Regions from separate parts of the Homo sapiens genome. Here region 2 is linked to region 1. The links come from fine-mapping of genetic effects on gene expression. Tissue or cell type: blood mononuclear cells. Region 1 holds a variant in brackets; the other region holds the start of a gene. Each region is shown on its reference strand, or each on the opposite one. Region 1 has its middle 19 kb from the start of FOXJ2. Region 2 holds the start of HGD (homogentisate 1,2-dioxygenase).

Evidence for each region. PIP is the estimated chance that this variant, and not a neighbour inherited with it, causes the effect. A credible set is the group of variants that fine-mapping cannot tell apart.
Region 2: HGD starts here. The variant in region 1 is the best candidate, but not a certain one, in a credible set for the expression of HGD in blood mononuclear cells (TOPMed, PIP 0.50).

What each region holds. Positions count from the first base shown.
Region 1 is chr12:8,012,548-8,015,465 of GRCh38, forward strand. It overlaps the pseudogene HSPD1P12. Among named protein-coding and RNA genes, the nearest start is that of FOXJ2, 19 kb to the right of the region's middle. The variant C/G (reference allele first, on the strand shown) is at 1,575.
Region 2 is chr3:120,681,006-120,683,923 of GRCh38, forward strand. HGD (homogentisate 1,2-dioxygenase) reads right to left here and starts at 1,234. Exons shown (of 14, transcript NM_000187.4): 1 at 1,092-1,234. The coding sequence starts at 1,106.

The DNA.
Region 1 (2,918 bases):
GGTGGGGAGCTGGGATTGGGGGTGGGGGGCACAGCAGCTTCCTTCTTGGTTGGTACAGGAATAAACACCCAAAAAAGGGGATCGTTCTCTGACTAATTTCTGTGTCTCATATCTTGTTTTATTTATTTTCTTTATTATTATATTTTTTCCTTTTTGTGGAGAATGGGGTCTTGCTATATTGCCCAGGCAGGTCTCGAACTCCTGGGCTCAAGCTATCCTCCTGCCTCTGCTTCCCTAAGAGCTGGGATTACAGTCATGAGCCACCGCGCCTCATATCTTGCTTTTACAGTGCTTCCTCTAAAGTCCTTCCAAAACAGTCTTAACAATTGTCATGTAAACCTATCATCTTTAAAATGTGTTGACTCCTTAGGAAGAGGAACTGCTACCCTTCACTAAGTATGCTCTGCTTCTCTAAGTATGTCTATTAAAATGTTCAGGAAAAAATCTGAGAGTCTGAGATGCAAGGCATTTAAGATGCCAGTGAGTTCCCAGAAAGCAAGCTTAGTGAGTATTCCCAGAGGTGATCACATGTCGCAAATCCTTCACTTTAGGCATTATGTAATTTAACCACTAGATGCTGTCTATCCTACCTTCCAACCCATTCCAAAGGCTCATATGTTGCTTAATACCTTTTGTGAGTCTTTTCAGAGTATGCAAGTATAGGACGGGCGTGGTGGCTCACACCTGTAATTCCAGCACTTTTGGAGGTCAAGGCAGGCAGATCACCTGAGGTTAGGAGTTCGAGACCAGCCAGGCCAACATGGTGAAATCCTGCCTCTACTAAAGACACAAAAATTACCTGGGCATGGTGGTGCATGACTGTAATCCAAGCTACTTGGGAGGCCAGGGCAGGAGAATCGCTTGAACCCAGGAGGTGCAAGTTGCAGTGAGCTGAGATTGCGCCATTGCACTCCAGCCTGGGCAACAAGAAACTCAGTCTCAAAATAAATAAAATAAAATAAAATAAAATAAAGTAAAATATAAAAGAATAGAAAAAATAATTTAAAAAAGAGTATGCAAGTACAATGACAGTTACACTCTATAGTCTGCTCTATAAGAATAGTTATTATGGCCAGGTGCGGTGGCTGACGCCTATAATCTCAGCACTTTGGGAGGCCAAGGAGGGTGGATCACCTGAGGTCAGGAGTTCCAGACCAGCCTGGCCAACATGGCGAAACCCCGTCTCTACTAAACATACAAAAATTGGCCGGGCGCAGTAGCTCACGCCTGTAATCTCAGCACTTTGGGAGGCCGAGGTGGGAGGATCACGAGGTCAGGAGATTGAGACCATCCTGGCTAACATGGTGAAGCCCCATCTCTACTAAAAATACACACACACACACACACACAAAAATTAGCCAACGTGGTGGCATGCACCTGTAGTCCCAGCCACTTGGGAGGCTGAGGCAGGAGAATCGCCTGAACTTGGGAGGCAGAGGTTGCAGTGAGCCAAGATCACGCCACTGCATTCCAGCCTGGGCGACAGGAGCAAGACTCTGTCTCAAAAAAAAAAAAAAAAAAAAGAATAGCTATTATTGTGTATATTCATATATTACGCTATGTTACTCTTCACA[C/G]CTATATAGCCATGGTTCTTTTCAAGGAAATTCGCTCAAAACAAGTTGTGTATAATTTTTACTGAGGCCTGTTTGCAATTACAATGCTGATCATAAATATTTTATCATTCTTATTGTTCTTGATAATATTAAAGCACAAAAGGCCACAAATGGCAAATAGTAATTACTTATGAATAAAAATAATTTGGGAATATACCAAGTCTAGTGGCTGCAATAGTCTCTCCCACCACCACTTACGTATATTACACATTATCAAGACAAGAAAAGTTTAGGAAGATGATAGGTACTGTGATTATCAACATAACCCTGACAAACCAATTTGATATCTGACATCAGTTTTAATACTCACATTCTGTCTGTTGTCCATCTCTCTGCTATCCTAGGAATTGACTCCCTCTCCAATTTCTCTTCAAGGTACTGTGTCCTGTAAGTTGTAATTGGCTAGTTATTCATTCACTGCATCTACTTAAGCTCCTTGAGGGAAAAGGCTGTGATTTAGACCTCTGGCCAATGGGCACTCTAACAAATCCTTGTGGAATAAAGTGAAACTTCATATAATTCTAATGATGTTTTAGAATGACTCAATTCTGGGATCTCCAACAAAGCTCATTCCACTCACTCATTCAGTAGCTTGTGAGAAGCATTTTATCAAATAAGGGTTCTGGGGAGAGACAGCTGAAGGTAAGGTAAAAACGTCTCTCCTGTATTTTGAGTCGTTTCTGTCACCAACTAGCAGTTTCCCGATCTGCGAAATGAGCAGGGATTGGATTAGGTGATCTTGCTGTCATAAAATTCTGTGATTTAATGTGGTTTACCTTGCCATATAAAATGTAAAACACCCTCACTTGCGGACGACGACCTGCCTCGTCGCGCACACGCCCTGCAGCCGCCCCGCAGAAATGCTTCTTCCGTTACCCACAGTCTTTCCCCAGATGAGACTGCTGTCCAGGGTACTGGCCCCTCATCTCACTCGGGCTTATGCCAAAGATGTAAAATTTGGCGCAGATGCCCGAGCCTTAATGCTTCAAGGTGTAGACCTTTTAGCCGATGCTGTAGCTGTTACGATGGGGCCAAAGGGAAGAACAGTGATTATTGAGCAGAGCTGGGGAAGTCCCCAAGTAACAAAAGATGGTGTGACTGTTGCAAAGTCAACTGACTTAAAGGATAGATACAAATTAGAGCTAAACTTGTTCAAGATATTGCTAATAACACAAATGAAGAGGCTGGAAATGGCACCACCTCTGCTACCGTACTGGCACGCTCTATTGCCAAGGAGGGCTTCAAGAAGATTAGCAAAGGTGCTAATCCAGTGGAAATCAGGAAAGGTGTGATGTTGGCTGTTGA
Region 2 (2,918 bases), not on the chromosome of region 1:
ATGAGAGTTAACTTTTAGTCAGGCATAAAGATAAAAAACCAAAGTCTTTTACTCCGGTGTGGAGTGTTTTCAGGATTCCTACCAATTAGGAAGGTGTTTGATTCTTCAAACTCAGAAACACCTCCCCTTAACTGATGGATTCTTCAAACTCAGCATCAGTTAGAGGGCATTAGGGCACTTCTCAAACCCTGCATTCAGGGAAGATGTCTGTTGTGGGGTGGTCTGGCCTACTTGGCCTGAGCCAAGGTTCTGGGCAGTTCTGTTCAGTTACACATGCATGCGTTGAGCATTGATTCAAGCCTGGCCTGGGCACTAGGCATGGTTTTAGATATTAGGGACATATTCTGTTTTCCTTGCCTTAAGATACCAGTCTAGTAGGAGCCACTAAGGCCCCTTTTTGAGCCTGGACTTCGCATTCAAACATACCCTGCTTCTAATCAAGTCATCTATTGGCAGTGACCTTGGGCAAATCATAGTCTCTCCAAGCATTACTTTTCTAATTGAAACAAGAACCTCTCTCTATACCCCAGATTTATTTTGAGGATTATGAGTTAATTCATAGCTAAAATGCTTAGCACCTAACAGCACATAACCCACACATACTTTTCAATTGCGTATTACTAAAAAGAAGGAATGATTTCCTAGAGGAGGTGCTTCTTCTGGCCAAGGGCTGATTCAGAGCCTTAATTAACTAAATAGATCAAGCATATCTAACTGGTCACCGGAAGTGGTCCATGAGGCTGCAGCAATGGGAAGGTGTCAGAGCAGGGGTTGGGAAAAAGACATAGAGAGAAACGTGCATGTCCGTAGTGGAGGGGAGCTCTTAGGATGTCTACAGATTTCCAAGACAATAATTGAAATGAACAAAGGCAAGGGATGACCAATAAGAGCTTCATTTCTTTCCTTTATCACCTTTCCCTTGTTCTTCAGCTCCAGCTGTGCCCACAGACACCACAGGGAAGCCTCTGAACACAGGGGTTTGAACCAGGGCCTCTCTAAGTCTTTTCCAACTCTGATACCCTGAAGTTCTCAGAAACTTCCATAAATTTTGGCTGAAGAAGCCATAGCAAACTTGTCAGATGGTTTCTTACCTTTAACTCAGCCATTTTCTCTCTCCTCTATGTGTGGTGACTTCAGGAAACCCAGGCCCAGAGGATATAAAGCCACAATGCTTCTTTCTCCTTCAAACCACTCTTTGGATATTCCGGTTCCCACTGCTTCACTGCGCTTCACTGGTCAGTGCGTCACTCAAACTAGCTGAAAGAATTGTCTAACTCATACACAGGGACAAAGTCCAGCAAGCTTATTTAACCGGTTACACAATTGCCTTTGGTTTTTACAGTTTGTTCCTAAGTGTTTCCAGAGGCTTGGTTCCTCTTCACCTGAGGTAGAGATTGACCAATTATTTATTCCAGTTAAAAGTAGGCTTATTTCAAAAGGCAGAGAATTTGAAGCTATCGGGGAAAGGAACTGTGGCAGATAGTGCCTGCTGTGTGTGGTGGAGGATTCTCTGCTCAGTCCTGACTCAGGCTAGGAAGGAACAGGGCAGTGCTGAGTCTCCTGGAGAGCAGTGAGAAAACCCCCAGGCATTTACCAGCTGCAGATGTGTACACTGGGGTAAGATGTTTACACACAGCCACCTGAAGACAGGGACCAGGACCAGAACCAGTTTTCTGCAGGTGCCTCCCAGGAATGAGCTCAGGTTCTTGGGTGAACCATTCAGAGCCTGAGATATTTCACTTAGAGCAAACTGATATGTTTCCTACTGCTCCTTTTAATTTCTTAAAGTACGTTTAGTTTTCTTATAAATTCTTTAAGAGTTTTGTTTCCTAATGCCTCTATACTTCTAAAACAGACCAAGGGATTATTCTCCAGCCACCTCCTCTATGACTCCCTTGTTCTTCATCTTGGCCGCTCTCCTTGGTCATTGGCAGGTAGCAGCTTCATGACTAGTGGTGTTCAGAAAGGAGAAAACATATATTGAGTTTCTGCTTTTGTCAGATTTTTCCATATCTAACTTCACAAAAACAATCTTGTAAATTAGGCATTATCACAACTCAAATGCCAACAGATGAGGGAGGAAGTGTAAGTGAATAAAGTAGGCTAGCTGATTTTTCAAGATAAGATGAAGCTCCAATTTTTAACCATTGGTAATTAGAGTGAGAGAGACAGAGAAACCACCCTGTGGTAGATGGCAAAAAATGCTCCAATTCCTCCTATCCTTGTATGTGTGCCCCTTTGAATGTGACTTTGCTGTTCCTCCCATCAAGAGGTAGGGTCTTTTTCTTTGGCTAGTAGCAAACATGACACAGAGTTTGAAACATGCCTGTGCCTTAGGACAGGGCCCATTCTTGCAGCCTGAGACCACAGTGCAGAGAAGCTGGGCTGGCCTCCAGAGGTCCAGGCAACAGCCCTGCAAGCCCCACAGGAACTGCCAGACATGTGAATGAGGCAGTCTGGCTGCCAGGTGACTGCAGAACATGTGTGATCCCAGGCAAGACCAGCAGAAGAACCACCAGTTAAATCTGGCCCGAACTGCTGAGCCACAGAATTGGGAACAAATAGAATGGTGTATTTCACACTACTAAATTTTGGGGTGGTTTGTTAAGCAGTGATAAATAACTGATATAATCATGCAGGTTGAAAAACATGTGCATATTTGAAGTGGCCACAGGCTGCTAGTTTGAGACCCTCTGCTTTAGATAAATGGGCTTAAACAACCTCCAAGGGTCCCCAGGCTCCAGCATACTGCAGTAGCAGCAGAATTATTGCCTGTGTATGAGGTGCTAGCACAGACTGGGCCAGACCAAAGGGGACATGTTGATAGGAAACATGCTGGTAGCAAACCATGTGGACTGATGCCTACGGACCGGGCAGCTGATAGGAAACCTCAGCATATGTCAGCATAGACAGATGGC